Linked DNA regions of Homo sapiens. The protein of the gene in region 5 purifies or fractionates together with the protein of the main gene of each other region. This does not show direct contact. Each region holds a gene or a part of one and is shown on either strand. Other genes may lie near its edges. The genes, in order: POMGNT2, FITM2, DIPK2A, ITGA6, TSPAN18 and CNNM3.

What was found.
Region 1: the proteins of TSPAN18 (region 5) and POMGNT2 purify together in Homo sapiens (affinity purification with mass spectrometry; one large-scale study listed by BioGRID and IntAct). This does not show direct contact.
Region 2: the proteins of TSPAN18 (region 5) and FITM2 purify together in Homo sapiens (affinity purification with mass spectrometry; 2 studies listed by BioGRID and IntAct, with this or other methods). This does not show direct contact.
Region 3: the proteins of TSPAN18 (region 5) and DIPK2A purify together in Homo sapiens (affinity purification with mass spectrometry; one large-scale study listed by BioGRID and IntAct). This does not show direct contact.
Region 4: the proteins of TSPAN18 (region 5) and ITGA6 purify together in Homo sapiens (affinity purification with mass spectrometry; one large-scale study listed by BioGRID and IntAct). This does not show direct contact.
Region 6: the proteins of TSPAN18 (region 5) and CNNM3 purify together in Homo sapiens (affinity purification with mass spectrometry; one large-scale study listed by BioGRID and IntAct). This does not show direct contact.

Annotation. Positions count from the first base shown.
Region 1 is NC_000003.12:43,096,080-43,099,579, forward strand, and holds part of POMGNT2 (protein O-linked-mannose beta-1,4-N-acetylglucosaminyltransferase 2), read right to left. Parts: intron 1-3,500. UniProt on the Homo sapiens protein: O-linked mannose beta-1,4-N-acetylglucosaminyltransferase that transfers UDP-N-acetyl-D-glucosamine to the 4-position of the mannose to generate N-acetyl-D-glucosamine-beta-1,4-O-D-mannosylprotein.
Region 2 is NC_000020.11:44,305,272-44,308,202, forward strand, and holds part of FITM2 (acyl-coenzyme A diphosphatase FITM2), read right to left. Parts: intron 1,970-2,931; coding exon 1,354-1,969; 3' UTR 1-1,353. UniProt on the Homo sapiens protein: Fatty acyl-coenzyme A (CoA) diphosphatase that hydrolyzes fatty acyl-CoA to yield acyl-4'-phosphopantetheine and adenosine 3',5'-bisphosphate.
Region 3 is NC_000003.12:143,978,323-143,981,822, reverse strand, and holds part of DIPK2A (divergent protein kinase domain 2A isoform a precursor), read right to left. Parts: intron 1-3,500. UniProt on the Homo sapiens protein: May play a role in cardiomyocyte proliferation through paracrine signaling and activation of the PPI3K-AKT-CDK7 signaling cascade.
Region 4 is NC_000002.12:172,430,586-172,434,085, reverse strand, and holds part of ITGA6 (integrin alpha-6 isoform b preproprotein), read right to left. Parts: intron 1-3,500. UniProt on the Homo sapiens protein: Integrin alpha-6/beta-1 (ITGA6:ITGB1) is a receptor for laminin on platelets. Integrin alpha-6/beta-1 (ITGA6:ITGB1) is present in oocytes and is involved in sperm-egg fusion.
Region 5 is NC_000011.10:44,918,962-44,922,461, reverse strand, and holds part of TSPAN18 (tetraspanin-18), read right to left. Parts: intron 3,249-3,500; coding exon 3,150-3,248; intron 2,646-3,149; coding exon 2,463-2,645; intron 1-2,462. UniProt on the Homo sapiens protein: Plays a role in the cell surface localization of ORAI1 and may participate in the regulation of Ca(2+) signaling and the VWF release in response to inflammatory stimuli.
Region 6 is NC_000002.12:96,819,268-96,822,767, forward strand, and holds part of CNNM3 (metal transporter CNNM3 isoform 1 precursor), read left to right. Parts: intron 1-3,500. UniProt on the Homo sapiens protein: Probable metal transporter.

The DNA.
Region 1 (3,500 bases), on a different chromosome or scaffold from region 5:
TGATCCTTATTTGTTTGCTTTCCTTTAGAAAAGCGGAGGTAATCAAACTAGGAAAAGCTGCCTCTTCCTATCACTCCTCTTACTCGTGCCCTAAGCGGAGTTTTGGCCCCTCCACTGCTCTGGGACCAGCAGCTGATTCCCGTGCTGTACCTCCCATCCCATCCTGCTACCAAGGATCCAATCGGCACCTGAAACTGATTCCCAGATTACCAACAACTATTAAATATGAACCCACTCTTACCTTGAAAAACACACTCAAAATCACCAGCCTCTAACACTTTATGTTCCAGGCAGTATACTGAACACTGTAGGTATATTTTCTCATTCAATCTTCAAACCAACATTAAGAGGCTAACACTATTTCTATTACTCCATTTTATAGATTGGGACACAGAGGCTGGGAGAAGCTAAGTAAATGTGTCCAAGTCCCTCAGCATGTACAGAATGGAGGCAGGATCTGAACATGGATTCTAAGCACTGTCTTATGTTAATAGCCCAGGCACCATTTGGACCTCACCTTCTTGGCATTCCAGGGCCACACAGACCAGGGTACTTCAACACCACCATGTTTATCTGCCTCTGCCTCCTCTATATTGGGCACCAAATTTAGAGACCAACTGGAGTGGGGAACAAAGGGCTTAGTGGCTCAGCCAGGACAAAGCATGATAAAACAAAAATTTTTTCAAAAGAAAGAGAAAAAAGAAATCAACAAGAGATTAAAAACATGCCTAGAAAATCCCTTTAGAAACTGAGGCAGACAGGAGGAAGCTACCAATTCACTCCCCCAAACCACTTTACTAAGCTCCCAAGAGCAGTTAAATGTTATCAGATCCCCAGACTTAGTGAATCCTCCTTTCTAGGATCCCAGCTGTTCCGAGCATCAGAGGATAATGTCAAAAATGCTGTTGCAACTGCAGACCCCAGTAACAGCTGGGCAGGTGGGGTGGGGCCACTTGCCTTGGGGAGCTCACCACGTGAGGGTGGTCATTGGTGCTGGGTGCAGGCTGTACTTCTGGGGGCCCTGGCCAGCCCCAGACACGGGCACAGAAAAGCCCATAAGGGCTTTAAGGTTTGATAAGGAGTAAAAGCTCCAGGAATTCTGGGCCCAGAGTAGGAGGTGCACACTCACATGCCTGCTAGGGCCGGAGCCAATGGAGAAAGTAAAGCTGAGGGTGGGCTGTGTGACCTGGAGACAGAACACCTAATGCCAGCTGATGAGAGAATGGCGGGAAAGCAGCCTGGTGGTACCTATCTGTATCAGTCTGCTTGGGCTCCCATAACAGAATACCAGACTGAGTGCCTTAAATGACAGAATTTTCTCACAGATCTGTCAGGGTTGGTTTCTGGTGAGGCTTCTCTTCCTGGCTTGTAGATGGCCTCTTCTCTGTGTGGTGGGGAGGGAGGAGAGGGGCAGGTGAGCAAGGGGGAAAGGGAGGGAGAAAGGAAGCCGGGAGAGGGAGGTGGGGAGAGAGAGAAACACTCTGATCTCTTTTCCTCTTCTTATAAGGACACCAGTCCTATCAGATTAGGGCCCCACCCTTATGACCTCATTTAAGCTTCATTATTAGGATGATCTATCTCTAAACACAATCACAGGGGGGTTAGATCTTCAACATATAAATGGGGGGAACATGATTCAGTCCATAGCAATACTCTTCTGATTTTCCCAGAGAAGCAAAAATCTATTTAAAATGTGAAATGTCCTCATTTGTAACTTCTGGCAATTATTCAAATTGAGTGAAGACAACGTGCACCAAGGCCTGGGGCTGCTGGCCTCATGGTTGCCAGTTAAAAACGGATGCTCATTTGCAAGCTCTGGTCTAAAGCAAATCCCCTGTCCTGCTGGCCTCACCATGGCCTGTGCCCGGGTTCCCAGTTTTGTGACTGCCAGAACCAGCAGCTCACCGGTCACTCCTCCACAAGAAGGGTTACAGAGGTGGAGGGACCAGACAGCCAGCACCTGCCAGACCCAGGCTGCAGAAGATCAGGCAGGGCCCAGGCCAGGAGGGGGTCAGCAACGGTGCAGAAGGTTTTATATTTTACTTTCACAGCAATTTGACTTTTAAGGATTGTTCACACTTCCAATTGAAAATTATAGAAATCTTATTTTGTCACTGAAAAGTGTTTTTGTCCTAAATGCAGCCTGAAGTACTAGTGCTAGATTGTGGAAGCTTTCAGTCCTGTATTGATTTGTTGTCTTACATGTTGTAAATTAGTAAGGAGTAAACATGTTTCACTAACTCAAGCTTATCCTCAGAATGATCTCTTTCCCCCTCCTTTTTTTTTGGTTATCTGAAGTAGTATATGGAACTGGTATTAATAACATAATGCTTACATTTGCTCCTAAATTAAATATTAACCTAATGCTATTGATAAATTCGGCATTTATAGATCAGGTTTTCTGACCAAGGTATTTATCCTTTGGCAAAATCTTGGCAGTCTGAGTGGTTCTTGTAAAACTTAACACATTTAATTATCAAGGCATATTTAACATTTAGTTAAGGGCTCACTTTCTTAGATTAAAACTTTGACATGGGTAGTATCTTCTTGCTTTAGAATAAAGAGCAAAGCAAAGTCAAAGCTGGAGACATTAATCCACCATCAATAGCTGATGACTGTGACTATATTGCCTTATCAATAGAAAAGGAACCCCTTCAAAGCAGGAAAAACTCCAACAGAATTCAAGTCTGTACTACTTTGGTGAGAAGGGTGATGTCAGTCTTTGCTGAGGATAAACCAAGGCTTGAGTGTGGGGCAGGACGTTCGGCCTTCCACCAGCTCATATGCAACCCTCTCACCGGTTTTCAGCCTCCAAATAACGCAGAAACCTTTGCTTGCCACACAGCCTGCCGTGTCATCTGGCTTTTGCTTAGCACAAATGGGTCACCTGGAAGTGACATGTGCCTGTATTGGTCCTCTCTGGCATCACTGTGTACCAGTGTGGTCATAAACGGGGATGAAACAGGGAACAGAACGGTGGGAACCTCTGTTGTGTGGCTCACAAAGGTAATGGAGAACACGCCTACACCAGGTTTTCTAGGTGGAACTACAAAATCAAATGAAAACAATTCTTACAGGGAATGCTCAGACCCCAGTGTGTACACAAATCCAGATGGACCCTCAGGCCCAATTTGAGAGGGTTGAACTGATCAAGAGAGCCAAAAACACCCAGTATAGGAAGCATAAAACATTCACAAAGAAACACGAGGAAGTGTGCACAACAAGAGATCATCCAGGGAAGCTGGCTGGAGGGTGGGTGAGTTTTGAGCAAGTTTTTGGAGGTGTTTTGGTGGTGATGGAGGATAAGATGAGCATCTCTGTTATGTGTCTACATGTCCCAATTACTCATGACTGCTACAAATCTGTCTGCAGCAAGCATCACTGTCTAGTTCTCACAAATGTCCAGCAAACCATGAGGCCTCCAAGCCATGGGCAGTGATGGCCAGGCCCAAAGCCATGTGCAGTTCAGTGGGCACTGCATACCCAGACAGGTAAAGGTC
Region 2 (2,931 bases), on a different chromosome or scaffold from region 5:
TTCGCTCAAAATAGAACAGAAAAAAAGTAATCTTATTGCTCCAAAAAAACCAGCATATAGTAATAGAAAACATGGACAGAAAATGATCATAGTCCATTACGTATGAATCATCCAATACTTGGTCGGAGAGGCACTGCATCTAAAAGGGCCTGTTTTGGTGGCTAATCGCAAGTCAGTTGCAATATTTAAACACTTCATGGATGAAACAAATATTACAACCAGAGAGTGTCCTTCAGGCATCAGGCTGTTTTTATAAAGAACCCTGCCTGAGCCGGGCGCGGTGGCTCATGCCTGTAATCCCAGCACTTTGGGAGGCCGAGGCAGGTGGATCACCTGCGGTCAGGAGTTTGAGACCAGCCTGACCAACATGGAGAAACCCCATCTCTACTAAAAATACAAAATTAGCCTGGTGTGGTGACGCATGCCTGTAATCCCAGCTACTCGGGAGGCTGAGGCAGGAGAATCGCTTGAACCTGGGAGGTGGAGGTTGCGGTGAGCCGAGATCGGGCCATTGCACCCCAGCCTGGGCAACAAGAGCAAAACTCCATCTCAAAAAAAAGAAAAAAACCCTGCCTGAAATAGATGCCTATGCAAAACTGACCAGTGGGAAATACTGTTTTGTTTTGTTTTTTCTTTTTTGAGGTGGAGTCTGCTCTGTCACCCAGGCTGGAGTGCAGTGGTGCGATCTCAGCTCACTGCAACCTCCACCTCCTAGGTCCAAGCAATTCTCCTGCCTCAGCCTCCTGAGTAGCTGGGATTACAGGCATGTGCCACCACACCCAGCTAATTTTTGTATTTTTAGAAGAGACGAGGTTCGCCATGTTGGACAGGCTGGTCTCGAACTCCCAATCTCAGGTGATCCGCCTGCCTCGGCCTCCCAAAGTGCAGGGATTAGAGGTGTGAACCACCATGCCTGGCTGGAAAATACTGTTAAGTAACAGCAGTAAGAGCCGTGAAAATCTAAAGACAACTGGAACCAGGGAGAAGGCAGCAAAGGAGTCCCAAGGCTCTGGCCACTCCTTTAGCCACACCATAAAGGCTTTCCTGATTCTGCCCTTTTGCTGAGCCTTAGGTCCCCACTCTAGGGACAAAAGGAGTGTTCCAGATAAAGGTCAAGTCTTACCAGGGACAAAAAGTGCCTAACTGGGAATGGTGGTGCTTGCAACACTGGTGATGTCGCCAAGAATAGTCTGAAGACTAAACTCACTCCCCAGACTTCAGCACCACCCACCAAAACTGCCTGGTACACTTTCCCTCTGAAGTAGGATCAATAATTTAGCCAAATAACTAAGCAAAATATATATTTGAAAAATAGATTAGCCATTGTCCTTCTGTCCCCCCTCTGTTACTCTTTTATTTCTTGTAACTATCTTGCTTCAAATTCAAACTACAGCTCTGGGGAGGAAGTCCTGGGGAAAAGGCTTTCGGATACCAAAACCCGTATGTCCCGTACCAGCTCAGCAAACCAAACAAGGTGCCAAACACCTTCTGGGACAAGTTGTGGAAATAAACAGCTGTGCACAGAAACATCAACACCCAGATGAAAGTCAGAATGCCCAGGGCCACAACCAGGGTGGTGATGGCGGTGTGGAGGCAGTGGCTTCGGTCCGTCTTCACCTCATGCAGCACAGACATCTCTTCTACAATCATGAGGGCGCAGAAGGTCAGCAGGAAGGAGTGACCTGAGATGTCAAAGCCATGCCAAAAGCCCCCTTCCTGGTGGCACTGCTGCTTGCTCTGGTGTTCCTTTCTGACCCCCTCCAGGGCTGGGGACTGGTAGCAGCTGCCCGTGTAGTGTTCGATGTTGGAGAAGATGGAGGTGCAGATGTACCAGATGGCCGTGCCCACAAGCAGGGTGCTCAGCCGCCGCAGGACCAAGCCAGCCTTGCCGGTCAGATGGTAGTTGGTGAGGGCAATGAAAGGCAGAAGGAGACAGAACGTCCAGGCCCAGGCCACTTTGACAAAATACCTGACAGAGGAGGAAAGTGGAAGTGAAGAGAGGGAACACGGTGGAGAGGACACCATGTCAGGACTCAGGTCTCTACACTGTCAGGGGAGGGAAAATGAGAAAACTGATCAAAGCTACAGCTCATAGCAACTATCATGTTTTAGGTACTTACCATATACTTCACTTACTAAGTACTTTATTTATTTATTTATTTATTTATTTTTGAGACAGAGTCTCGCTCTGTCACTCGGGCTGGAGTGCAGTGGCGCAATCTCAGCTCACTGCAACCTCCGCCTCCCGGGTTCAAGCAATCCTCCTGCCTCAGCCTCCCAAGTAGCTGGGATTACAGGTGCGCATCACCCCGCCTGGCTAATTTTTGTATTTTTAGTAGAGAGGGGGTTTTACCATGTTGGCCAGGCTGGTCTCGAACTCCTGGCCTCAAATGCTCCGGCCACCTTGGCCTCCCAAAGTCCTGGGATTACAGGCATGAGCCACTGTGCCCAGCCCTCCCCTCCTCCCCTACCCCACCCCTGTGTAAGTACTTTAAATGTATTAACCAGGTAATCCATTAACAACTCTATGAGTTGGCCGGGCGCGGTGGCTCACGCCTGTAATCCCAGCAGTTTGGGAGGCCGAGGTGGGCAGATCACGAGGTCAGGAGATCGAGACCATCCTGGCTAACATGGTGAAACCCTGTCTCTACCAAAAATACAAAAAATTAGCCAGGCGTGGTGGCGGGCGCCTGTAGTCCCAACTACTCGGGAGGCTGAGGCAGGAGAATGGCATGAACCCGGGAGGCGGAGCTTGCAGTGAGCCGAGATTGTGCCACTGCACTCCAGCCTGGGCGATAGAGCGAGACTCCATCTCAAAAACAAAACAAAACAAACGAAAAAAAACAACTCTATGAGTTAAGTACTGTTAATATCTGCCTTTAACAGAGAAGAAAACTGAGACAGAGGGAAGTGCCACACCAAAAGTGGAGG
Region 3 (3,500 bases), on a different chromosome or scaffold from region 5:
TAATTATCTTTACAACAGTCAAAATGAATTCAAAAGATAGATTAACACAACCTCCCTCAAGCCAATATCCTTTTGTTGAAGTTAAACTTTATTAGTTTGGGGTGGTTTTTTTGGGTTTATTTTTTGTTTTGTTTTTGTTTCTGTTTTTGTTTTTGCTTATTTATCATCTGTTTAAGAATTTTTCAGATTTTATAAAGGTAACGGTTTATATATTACATAAGAGCATTCCAGAAGCCAACATTATGCTGGAAAAATAATGTTAAGATTGATTATTTAACCTAAGTGATCTCCACCCAGGCTGAGACCTAAAGGATGAGTTTAATATTAAGCAGACTGGAGATGGGGCAGTTCAGGCACATGAAAAGCCTGAAAGTATCTTCTCAGAAATGAATAAAAGACCAAAGCAGCTGCAGTGAAATGAATGGGGAAATGACTTGCGGTAAGGGAATCTGGAGAGTGAAGCAAGGACCAGATCATGTTGGGACTTATAGAATCAAACAGAAATCTTCAACTCAGTCTTTATAGCATCATCTATATGTATGCCATGCAAAAACAAATACATGTCAAAATCTTGATGTTCAGGATTATCTTACATACTGAAATCAAACAGTATGCTATGGTATATTTACCTTATTCTAAAAAACAAGCCTTTAAAATATCACGATAACCCTTTGATCAATATCCACCATCCTGCCAGGTTAATAAGGCCATTTCATTCTATCATGCCATAACACAGTCATGAAAAGGGTGGACATGGAATATATGAGTAAAGATACATAAAAGAATACATTTTGGTATTGTTTATTTACTTACAAAAAATAAATGACATGAGACTAATAGATTAAAATAGAGTCTACTTAAAAGTGCTTGTATTCTTTTTTCTCCTACATGACCAAAAATATTGTATACTAAATTTAAAAGATCAAAATTCCTTTTATACAATATAAAATATTTTATAATACTTCATTACCTCATAATATTCCATTAAAAGGAACATAGCTTTGCAGTTTGCCTTAAGAGAGAAAATAAGTACAGACCAAGAGATGTGTTACCATGCAAGACTGATTTTTGTTAAACTTGAAAGTTCTTAGTATAAACAAACTAACTTCAAAAAAACTATTAATAAAACATACAATCTAAAATGTGAATATCGATTTTCTACATAACTGGCATTTCTACAAAAAAAAAAAAAGTTTAAGCTTGAAAACACTCTTAGAAAGTATATGTCATCAAAAGCATAGAAAATGCTTAAAGGGGCCAGGCGCGGTGGCTTCACACCTATAATCCCAGCACTTTGGGAGGCCTAAGTGGGCAGATCACCTAAGGTCAGGAGTTTGAGACCAGCCTGGCCAACATGGTGAAACTCGTCTCTACTAAAAACACAAAAATTAGCCAGGCGTGGTGGTGAGCACCTGTAATCCCAGCTACTCGGGAGGCTGAGGCAGGAGAATTGCTTGAACCCGGGAGGCAGAGGTTACAGTGAACTGAGATCACGCCACTGCACTCCGGCCTGGATGACAGAGACTCCATCAAAATAAAGACAGACAGACACATAAGAAAGAAAAGAAAGAAAGAGCTAACTTAAGTTTTAAAATTATTTTTTAAAGCCCAAATTTGAATGAAATCCCATTGTAGTAACGCATGTTATAACAGCTGTTCATAAAGATTAGTCAACTGTACTGGTGACAGACTAATGTGTTCACAGTTTGGTGAACTGTCTGGAGGGGAGATATAGTAAAATTACGGGGATGATTTAATGGTTACTGAATTTTTGCTAAAATTTCTCTAAGATCTTAGCTTCTTAATTTATACTGCTAAATAGCAGCCAAAATCCATTGCAAATACTGTAGAAGCTTAACAATTTCAAGATTTTTAAGTCCTAGCATATGTCCCATTTATTTCATGAAATAATTTTCTGAATGCCATTTTCCACCCACCTCAAATTCCAACAATATTAAACAATGCCTTGAAAATAGTAAGGTTGTGTTATTTTACTGAATATCATGTCCAACAGCTGTATCTAAAATTGGAAACTGATGTCAAAACACATTTTAAAAACTAAATTTAATAGAAATAGATTATCTTTTAGAATAAATTGCTTAAGAAATGCTGCCCCCACCAAAAAAAAACACAAAACAAAAAACACTTCACTTGTTCACAAGTTTTAAATATGCATAAGTTTACTAGTCTCAACTGACCCTTACTGTGTCCCAGGGGTATATACAGATCAGTTCCTGGCACTATTGACCAATTCCACATAATTACTGTCAGATCTTTTCATTTCAGAGTTAACCCCCAAAAAAGCATTAGAAAGAAAAAATACGAAGACACTGAAGCATCATACTTACTTCAGATTACAAATCTTTTAAGATTCTGTCTCAGAGTCTAAGGTCTAGACTTAACCTGTTTTTTTGTACTACCATTTACCAATGTACTAAATAGAATTACTAAACTATAATAATGATTTACAGAGAAAAAAAGAAACTATTTGCCTTTTACTTCTTAATCCTTATCTAAACCGTCTTTCCTACCATATTCATTCTATTCATTACACTTCATATGAGACAAATCCCTAATCCCCTTTTAAACTACTATTTTTAAAAAACTATAGCCTGAATAGGTACATATGATTTACGTATATGTAAGGACAGTGACATTTGAATGTCTGCAATAAGAAAAGTAGGATTTTTACATTTCTAAGACAGACATCAGCATAATGTACTAAAGAACTTTTAACTACTATAGCTGTCTAAAAATGGAATAAGCTGATTTTCAAAGAAATAATACACTGTAAAAAGCTTTACAACTGAAAACATTTAACAGATATTACTTGAATAATCCTTTCTTCTTTAATCTTTAAAACAATCCTGTTAGGTAAGTATTAACAACCCCATTTTACTGATTAAAAAAACTTAGAATCGGAAACATTAAGTGACTTGCTCAATACCATCCAACAACTTTGTGGTAATACAGAATGTGAAATGGATGCTCTATCAATACTGCCCCCTCCACCCTTCCTCCCACTCTCCACCCCCATCTATTGGCAAAATCTCTGAAACTTTCCCTGGTACCATTCCTATCAATATACAATGAGATGTCCCTCCCTGAGTCATGTGACAGTATATATATATATATATATAGATATATATATATCTATATATAGATATATATATATATATATAGATATATATATATATATAGATATAGATATATATATATAGATAGATAGATAGATATAGATACCTTTTGTACAGGGCTTATTAAATGGATTGTATAATAATTAGTTATTTGTGTACCTACCTCCTACATAGTAAGCTACTTGTTTCCTACGGCCATCTTTCCATCCTTTCAATCCAAATGCCTTGTAACAGATTGTAAAATGAACAGACAAATTCAGTTCTTTTGGTTATAAATTCAAAGAGCTCTCAAGAATTTCACAGACAACTTCCTATCACCTTATACTAACCTCACCTTACACTAATAATTTTCAGTCATGTTAC
Region 4 (3,500 bases), on a different chromosome or scaffold from region 5:
AACCTGCCCTGGGTGTTGTGCAAGTTATCCAGCCTCCTAGGGATGGAGGTGTGGGGGTGCTTTCAAGGTCATAGAGGTCTAAGAAGGCCTGGAAACCAGACAGGTGGTATTCCTTAGCAGTAAGCCCAACCTATAACTGCACCACCCACCCTCCATGGGTATCCAGCTCACAGTCACTGCCCCGTCATGTCTATGCACCCATCTGTCCACTCATCTCTGAACACTGAGACCTCACTGGGATTTATCTATGGCTTAGTAGCTACGAAGGGCTGCTAAGTAGAAGGCATGGCTCTTCTGAGATGCACTTTTCAACTGGAGAGTGGAATGGAAGAAAGGGAGAATGTGATGAAAACCAAACCTTTAAACGTGATGAAAACCAAACCTAAAAGGAGAAAGCACATACACAGCACAGGCCGGGAAGCAGGGAAGATGCAGATTGAAGACCAAGTTTGCTAGACATGCCGCCACCACTGCACCTCTTACAGCCTTGGTTTCCTCATCTATTTAACAAACACAAAATGCTCACTCTGGACCAGGACTATTCTAATGTGCGAGGATACTAGCTTCACAGCTGAAGGCAGGAAGGCCTAGGAAGGTTAGGAATCCTGCACAAAATCATAGCTAGTCAATGGCAGAAAAGGGTTTGATCCTACCTGGCTCTAGGCTCTGCTCTTAGTCACTACATTACACTCTGCCTTCTGTGTAAAGGAGAAAAGCTAGTCTGACTCAAACGAAGAAGACTTTAAGAACAGCTTCTTGGAGCACACTTATGGAAACTGACGTAACAGATCTAGGCTGGGCTGAGAATCACACTTTTATAAAAGGTTGCCCAAGTAGTTACCCTGAAGACCAGCCAGGTTTCAGAACCCCTAAGCTTCCTTCCAGATATAAAGTTATTTGATTCCAGAGTTGTACCCAAGCCCAGAAAGGGAAGATGGGCACCGGGGGCTGAGACTACGTCCACTTCCCACTGCTGCAGTACGTAATCTTTACCATCCTCCCAGGAGCCAGCGGGGGTGCTACACAGATCCCCAGATCCCATGCTATGGCTCCTAGGCTCACCCCCGGAGCAGGTAAGCAGCCTTCCCACCATCCTACCGAAAGAGTTAAATATATCCAAGATTCCCTTACTATCCTTGAAGAAATAAACCTGCCGCTATCAATTCACAAGTGACTTCACACGTGTACTGCACACTTCCATTTGACCCCCACACCCCTGTCAAGTTGCTTTCAGAAAGATCTCTATTCCACAGTCATCCTTCTCTGTCCAGCCTCATAACAACCAACCACCTCAGCAAGTCCCGAGTACCCACTGCAGTGTAGGTCAGCCTGTATTTCTGGGGTTAGGTTCTAAAGTCTGCCTTTAGGGCAAAAGCCAGGTGAAATTTACAAACACTCATGAAAATCCCTTAGCTGGAACCCCCCGCCTTTGAAAAATCAAAAACCAAGAATTAACGTCTTGTGCGTTTCTTTGCTAAGCTTACAGATTCCGTTTCCTCAGAGGCAGAAGACACCAAGGCCTGAGCAAGGAAGGGCAAAGGGTTAAAGAAAGGGATTTCTCCCTCTCTCCACCCTCAGCAGGAAGAGTTGATGTCACAGGTTAAACTGAGTGTATAATATCAGTCTCTATTGTATTTGCAAGGCATATGCTAGGTGCTAGCAGGCAAAGAAATGAATGTAAGACCCCTGCCCTCACATAACCTACAATCCAGTTGGGAGAGATTAGATCATGTCCTAAAGATAGTGGATCACAGTTTAGCACAAAACATCAGAATTGTCAGACACAATGTGCTACAGACATCCAAAGGAGTTAAAGACATTGCTTTAGTGTAGGATGGGGAAATTTTAAACTGGTTCTTAAGCTATGATTATATTCTTAAAATGGGCTGATTCAGCACTAAATCAGTGTTTCAGGCACAATTGACCCTGTCATCTAAGCTTACAACAGTATTTTCTGTTTTGTCTCACTGTCCCTCTTGAAAATACCAAATAATTCACTGGCCTCACTGTCCACAGTAATATGTTGAGCCGAGGTCTTCAGGAAACCATGCGCCATAATTCTGGTACTATTTGGTTATGAAAGCTTAAATTAAATCTCAATATATTGTTATGCTAAGAGAGTCTATATAACTGAGAACACAGAATAACCACTTCTTTATAATAAAGGAATCCTTTTATATAAGCATTTATCCTGACTTCCCCAACAAATTATTTATACCATATAAATACTTTGACCCTTTTTTTCCCCAACCCTGTCATTACTTGGTCTCACACCAGCCTGTGTTAAAATTAAACTTGCCTATTTCTGCTTTCTTGCAGAGTCCTAAGACTTCCTGTAAGTCTCGCTGCCCGTTTTGGCTTTTTCTCTACTCTTAGCATTCAAGGTGACCCAGCAATCCCTGGAAGATGGCCCTGGGCCACATGGCACTCCGAGTGAATAAATGCAAGGAAGCAAGTGCTTAGGTACACATCCTGAATACAGCTCTGATTCTTGGCTAGCTACAGCCACACTTCACTGGGCTTTTTCAGAAGGGAATGGGGTGGAGGCAGGCAAAGAAGGACGGACCCAGAACTTGTTCCAAGGCCAGCTGGAATAGAGTCAATAGTAAGAGTCCAGGCACCAATATTTAAATAGATAGCCCTGACCTATGCATATGGGAAGCAGTTTGATAAATCAACACAATATAGTACACTTCCAAAATTCAGATGCTTGCCGATTTCTCTAGGTCTGAAGAACATTTCTGGCTTTTCCATTTAAAAATGGCATGAGCATGGGTCAGAGATTCAAATCCACATTCTGTTAAGATTCTGCTCAAGCTGAACTTTCAGCTTCAGTTTCTTCATCTGTAAAAAGAGGCAGTTGGACTAGATGATCTCTAGTTCAGAAAATATGATTTTAAGAGATGGAACATGACAAGTCTGAGAAAAGTCAAGAACAAACCTAGTAAGGGTCAGAACAGAACAGACCGCGGGCCTGGAGCATTTCTGGAAGACAGTGGTGGTCAGAGAGAGAGACCCCATAAAGAAGAAAATGAGGGTTGGCAGAAATCCAAAATGACTTCATGAGACTATCTCTTATAGATCTCCTTCTTCTAGGTTCTTCCCTGTGATCATATATAGATCCATCTCTTCCCAGAAGAGCTAAGAGTGATGATTCATAGGCTGGATATACCCACAGTCATCATCACATACCTTCCACCTCTGGGAATGACTCAATCTTAACTACCTAAGAGAAATTAAAGAGTCCAAGGTGCTCAGACCCTGACCTCAGTCACTCGGCGGACCAACTTGGCTGACCATTGAGTAATCTTTTGGAGTCCGAAACTTCTTTAATATACAGCCTGAAAACCTGGATGAAGTTTATGGTATCTACTTCAATTTTATAGTCTCCAAAGCTTTAGGAACACCCGACATGTTTTGGGGCTCTCTGACACAATATTATTCTGCAAAAGTCATAACTGGAGTTTAAAATGTGACTGAATAGTTAAAGGCACTATAGA
Region 5 (3,500 bases):
ATCCTTGCCATGGGCCTGCCAGCAAAGTCAGAAATGTATCCTAGGGCCGGACATGGTGGTTCATGCCTGTAATCCCAGCACTTGGGGAGGCCAAGAGGGTGGATCATTTGAGGTCAGGAGTTTGAGACCAGCCTGGACAACATGGTGAAATGCCGGTCTCTACCAAAAAATACAAAAATTAGCTGGGTATGGTGGCATGTGCCTGTAGTCCCAGCTACTTGAGAGGTTGAGGTGGGAGAAACACTTGAACCCTGGAGGTGGAGGTTGCAGTGAGCCAGGATTGTGCCATTGCACTCCAGCCTGAGCGACAGAGCGAGACTCAGTCTCAAAAAAAAAAAAAAAAATGCATCCTGGGCTTTAAGCAAGAGGGCTTTGGAGGAAAAGACAAATAGAGACAGTTCCACAGCAGCAGATTTTTAACGGGACGAAATGCCTAGGAGGGACATGAATGTCTCAGCAAAGAAACCCCAGGAGCCAGTCTCAGACCCTCAGGAACAACAGAGTCACTGGAAAGAATGAATGTGGCTGTGCAGGGACCTCTCTGATGAGCTCTGATTTTGAAGACATGCCCAGGAGAGGAAAGGAGACATCCTAACGGAGGATGAGTCCAGAAATGGGAAGCACATCTGATGCGGGGAATGCGGCCCATGGGAAGCCTCCTGAAAACTTACAAGTAGCATTAAAAGGTTCTAAGTTTGGCTGTTGGCAACGGGCATCTCAAACAACAGCTCCTTCACCAAGTTACAAATTCACTGGTCTTTCACATAAACCCCACGCTATGGTGGCCGCTGTATGCCATGGAACTGTACGTGGCCCAGGCTCCTTCTCTCTGGATGCTCTGCCATCCTAGGGGCCACCTCCCTCTGCCAAGTCCTAGCCAGAGAAAAAAGGAGGGGTGGGCACAGCACTTTCTCTTAAGGATGTGACTCAAGTTGCACAAATCACCTCTGCTCACCTCCCGTTAGCCAGAACTCGGTTACATGGTCTAGCTGCAAGGCAGGCTGGGAAGTGCAGCCTCTAGCTGGTGGTCATGGGGTGTGATAACCATTCCCTTCCCAAGAGAGTAGGGGTGAATGGATCGTGGGGGGCAGCCAGCAGCCTCTGCCAACATATGGAATCTGAGGTCCAGCGAGGGTGTCTTGGCGAAGGCAACACAGCAGTTAACAGCCCACCCCTGCCTGCCATGGAAGCCTGAAACTCCCCTCCCCGCCCTGCAGCTGCTCCCCACGGCAGGTCTCTCTGCCCCACGTCCACAGTGGCCTCAACTCAGGGCCCTCATTTCTCTATTGAGCCTCTTTCCCCCAATGCAGGAAGGCAGGGTGATGAGGGACAGAGAGAACGTGGCCCTCAGGGCCTCAGGAATCCATGGGGATGTGCCAGGGCCAGAGGGGCTGAGTTCCTGGGGCAGAGCTGAGGCTGGAAAGGGCCCGCCAGAGCCCCAGGACCCAGGCCTCTGCTCACTGTCACCTCCTCTGGGACTTTGCAAGTTCTGCCTTGAGCCCCCACCCAAGGCCCATTCTAGCCCCTCATCTGGTTTTATTTCTTCGCAGCAATCATGACCATGTGAAATGATTACTTCTCATTAGTTTGCTGCTTGTTCATCTTGCGCGTCCTCTAATGAGATCGTGAGCCTCGCAGGAACAGGGGCCTTGTCTCCTGTCCCCTGCTGTGTCTCTTGCATCTGGAACTCTCCATGAGACCCTCGTTAAAGTCCTACTCAAGCAAGGGGGCTGGGGCCCAGGCTTAGATCACCCTCGTCCTCTCCCTCCCTCTCCTCCTGCCTAGCCTGGTCACACACCCACACTGGCAGAGTGGGGGCTGGTCAGTGGGAAGAAGGGGATTAAGAGCAAGGGCATTGTGAACTCATAAGGGTGTGTGGGCAGGAGGCACACAAAGCCAGGCGCTTGTCTTCCCTAGAAATGGCACGTGCAGGAAGGGAAAGGGTTTCTTCCAAGGCTGCGAGGAAGTCCTCAGGTTGCAAGAGAACCTGAAGTCTAGGAGCTTCTCTGACCTTGGAGAGTCAGGTCAAGGAGACCTTGCTCCCTTAGGGTGCCCCACATGGCAAATAAGAGCTTCCTCCAAAATACAGTGCATGGCTAAGAAGGGCCCCCCACTGTGCAATTCTGGTTCTGTCCCCCTCCCTCCCTTTGGACCTGCATTATCAGAAACTCAGGAAACATCGGGAAACTCCTACTCACCCCTTAGCCCCAGCCTGAATGCCCACTCCAGCGGCAGACCATCTGCCACTGTCATCCTTCCCCATTTTGGTTGGATCTCAGGGGCTTGGACAGAGAGCCTCCATCAGCCCCTGCTCAGGTGCAGGCATCCCATATCATGGCCAACACTTCCCTGGGATTCCTGGGGTAGCTTCAGACCCTCTGGGGTGATAGCGCCTCCCACCCAGCTCTGGCCACCCAAATCCCGATAGACCCACTCCCCTGTCTGGAGAGCAGGGCCAGTACCTGCTTGTTTAGGAATAGGCTCCTTCCCAGGAGGCACTCCTCCCGGCTCAGCAGGACCCCGTCCCGACTTTGGGGTTCCCTCCGGCAGCAGGCCTCCGGCACCTCTTCACTATCCAGGGTCAGGAGTCGAAACACAGATGCAAACTTAAAGTCTTCAGGCCCGTTGACCCCGCAGCAACCAAACTAGGGGGAGATCCCAGAGAAGGTTCTGGTGGGCAGGAGGAGGACACAGGGGCGGGGACAGAGAAGGACATACAGCCTCTGCAAAGGAGTGGCATCAGAAGACTGGGTGTGGGCGGGCTCCACCTGTCACCACTGTGTGACCATGGGAAAGCCACTCAGCTTCTCTGGGCCTTCAGTGTCCTCATCTCTATAACAGAGGTGGCAGTAACAATTCCTACCTCACCAGGCGCTTAGCCATCCATAAACAGTTGCTGTGGTTATTATCATCATCATAATGACCATTGCTTGGGGACCCAAGACAGGGAGAGCAAACAGGTTTCATCCCGAGTAGGGACTGTGATCAAGTGGCATGGCTGCCTGGAATGCTGCGTGGATGGTGATTCCAAGGCCAGGTCTGTGATCAATGGGAGAGTGCCTGGATTGATTACTGATGCCTGGCGTGGGCATGTGAACACTGGGCATCGTGGCTCTGAATGTTCATAGCATCTCTGGGGCGTCACTCACTGTGATCATGACCGAGTTCCAGGTGGCAGAGAAGACGTCTGTGTCGTTATTGCCCTGGTAGTGCTTGGTGAGCTCCTTGGTGAAGAATTCTCGGGTGAGCTGGGGGCAGAGGGAGAAGATGGGCTTAGGCCTGGCAGTTGGGTGCAGCCCCCACCCTCCATCGTCTCTCCATCCACCTGCTTGGGAGTTGGGGGAATGAGAGCTAGGGGCTCTGCATCCTGGTGCCAGGTCCCCTGGGATTCTCCTAAACCACCAACTTGGGGCAGTCTTCTTATCCCCAGTGGAGAAAGGAAGTCCATACACATGCACATCTCGGTGGAGCCGAGGTCAGGGCACGCTGAGGACCTCACT
Region 6 (3,500 bases), on a different chromosome or scaffold from region 5:
TTCTCCTGGTGTGGTGGCCAACATTGCAACCCTGGAATCAGCGGAGTAGGTTCCATCCTGCCCTTGCCTGCCCCCAGGCCCTGAAGGCTGCTCAGCCTCTTGTGGTGCAAAGTCCTCTGCTGTTAGTGATAAGAGTGGGTAAACAGACCTGCGGGGGGAGACTCATCAAGCACTTTGGCCAGTGCCTGGCGTGCATATGCTGTGTGCTTGGCGTTAGCAGGTGGTTCTTACTCCGGGACAGGCTCTGCTGGTAGGTGAGCTGTTTGCCAATCCAGGAGCAAGGGGTGAATCTGGAATTGCAGATTTCTGTTCTTCTAGGCAGGTCACCAGACTTCCTTTTTTTTAGGGAAAAAGTGGAAGACTGTAGCTGTCCTTTTGGTGTTCAAAGCACTCACGTTTCTAGATTCTTTAAGAAAAAGCTCACTCTGGTGTCTGGCTTCAGCTGGCTGCTGCTTTCAACAGTTGAGCAGTCACCAAGCAGAGATTTGGAGCAGCGGAGATGGAAGGGTTGTCCTGTTCAGAACTAAAGGCAACTTCTGTAGTTGGTCATGATGCTCAGGATGAGGCTGGTGAAAGTGGTCTTTCATTTTCCAAACCGCCAGTGTCAGGATCTTCGCTGCCATGGTCTTGTCTTTCAGATGCGATGGATGAGCTTGGTCCAGGGTGGTTGGGGATTCCACTTGGGGAAGAATAAAAAATGTTCATGTTCGTTGGGAAGGAGCGCAGAGGCAGGATGTCCCCTGGCGGGGGGGCTTGTGTGCTGTGTAAGGAACTTGTACTTGATCACCAGGGCCATGAGCATCAAGCAGCAGCATCAGTTATTTTTACAGATCAGTAACAATTGTGGACACCAGCGCAGGGAGACCAGCGGTGTGAGGGATCCAGGTGAGAGGGGATGATAACCTGAACAAGGTTCATGGCAGGCCTGGAGAGGAGCCCCAAGAGGGCAGCAGAGGTGGAATTGGGAAGATTGGTATCTGGCAGCAGGGCTATGCAACAAGGAGGAGCAGCTGAGGATGAGGCCCAGATTTCTGGCTGTGTGGTGGCGGTGCGCCTTCACTAAGGGCCGGGCGTGGGGAGCAGGTTTTGGCCATTGAATTTGTGTCTGTGCAGTGTCCCAAGAGGCAAACTCCTAGCAGGCCGTTGATGTGAAATGCAAGTGGGAGGCAGAATAGGAGTGTCTCTCAAGTCATGGGAGGGAGGCAGAGAGCCTCAGCCTCCTAGGAGCACAGGTGTGTCAGGGGCAAGGGAAGCCCAGGAGAAGCTGGCCAGGAGGAGGCAAGACCAAGGAAGGAGGAGTTCCCGAGATGCGGAATGTCCTGGAAGCTAAGGGAAGAGACCACTTTCCCAGGGAAGGTGAGTGACAGGAGAGGAGGCCAGCAAACAGGATGCCGTTGACCTTTGCAAGAGCAGATTTGGTGCCACGGCAAGGGAGCCATTTGGGGAATGAATGAGGTGTGGAAAGGTACGAGAACCAATGTAGACAGCCCTCCACAGAGTGTGGCTGCAGAGAGAAGTGACTGGCAGAGGATGTGGGACAGGGGAGGAGGCCTTCTGCTGTTTGGTTTTAAGATGGGCAAGTCCAGTAGGTTCAGATTGAAATGCAGGTTGAAATGTAGCTAGGAAGGAAATTAGAGAGGCCAGGGTCCGGGCTGCTCCTGTTCTGGGCTGGGTGGCCTCCAGGCAGGTCACAAGCAGCCCGATGCAGGAGGATTTGGGGTTGAGTGCCTCTGCTTGAAACAGACCTTTCTAAAAGCTGCCTGACAACATGCTGAAAAGGATCCCCTTGGAAGACAGTGGGGGAGGTTTTTGGAACCTGGAGGTTAAATGGGGAGCTCTTTAATCCCCCTTGACTTCCCCGCTCCTGTGGTGAGTGAGGGCCATTCGTGGGCAGACTGGCCATGTCTTTCTGGTGACATCCCGGAGCTTTTTTCTCTGCTTCTCTAGTTCAGTGCAGTCCTTTGGCAAATATCTTTATTTTTTCCGTGTTAAAGTCCTTTTTGTCCTTCCTAACCTTCTTAAGCATTCCTCCACTTAGGAACAAAGGGCATATTGCAGTCTTTGTGGCGTGTGAGGTTTTAAAAATCGATTCCCTTTCCATCTCTCTGCCAAGCTAATGAGCCTCTGAATTTCGTGGAGCTGGAGTCCCTGCCATCTTGGCAGCTTTCATTCCGGGTCTTGTTTCTTTTGCTGTGTCTGCTAGGGAACTTTGTAGTCTGGGGGCAAGGTAACCTCCCCAGCAAGGCGCCCCTCAATCAGTGCCAACTTGAGATGACGTGCTGATTATTTTGTGCAGACGTCACCAGGAAGAGTGAGTGCTTTGGAGCCATAATAAATAACTTGGACAGCTGCTCCTTGACTTACAAATGGAGTTATGTCCTGATAAACCCATTGTAAGTTGAAAATACCTTAAGTCAAAAATGTGTTTGATACATCTAACCTACCAAACCAAATAGTTCAGCCTGGCCCACCTTAAACATGCTCAGAACACTTACTTTAGCCTGCAGTTGGGCAAAGTCATCTAACACAAAACTATTTTAAAATAAAGTGTTGAATATCTCATGTAATTTATTGACTGCTGTACTGAAAGTGAAAACAGAATGGTTATATGTGTTTGAAGTATGGTTTCTACTGAATGCATATTGCTTTTGAACCATCAAATTTGAAAAATTGTAATTTGAACCATTGTTAAGTAAGGGACCTTAATGTACAAAAGAACATTATTATTATTATTATTATTTTTTTTTTTTTTTTGAGATGGAGTGTTGCTCTCTTGCCAGGCTGGAGTGCAGTGGCACAATCTTGGCTCACTGCAACCTCTGCCTCCCGGGTTCAAGTGATTCTTCTGCCTCAGCCTCCTGAGTAGCTGGGACTACAGGCGTGCACCACCACGCCCAGCTAACTTTTTTATGTTTTTAGGAGAGATGGAGTTTCACAATGTTGGCCAGGATAGTTTCGATCTCTTGACCTTATGATCCGCCCGTCTCGGCCTCCCAAAGTGCTGGGATTACAGGTGTGAGCCACTGCGCCTGGCCAAGAACATTATTATTATTATTTTTGAGACAGAGTCTTGCTCTGTCACCTGGGTTGGAGTGCAGTGATGTGATCGTGGCTCACTGTAGCCTCTACCTCCTGGGCTCAAGTGATCCTTCCACTTCAGCCTCCTGAGTAAGCTGGGGCCACAGGTGAACACCACCATCCCCAGCTAATTTTTAATTTTATGTAGAGATTGGGGTCTCCCTATGTTGCCCAGGCTGGTCTCAAACTCCTGGCCTCAAGCGATCCTCCCAGCTCAGCTTCCCAAAGAGATGGGATTACAGGTGTTTCCCACTGTGCCTGGCCGCAGTCTCTGCTTTAAAGGAACCCAGCTCTGGTTTCCTGTCTGCTGGGAGCCAGATGATTGCCATGATGCGGAAAAGAGTCTGACCAGCTCCAACAGCAGTGAGGAGCGTCAGCACACTACTTTTGTCTTTCTCACAGTATTCATTCATTCACTGAGG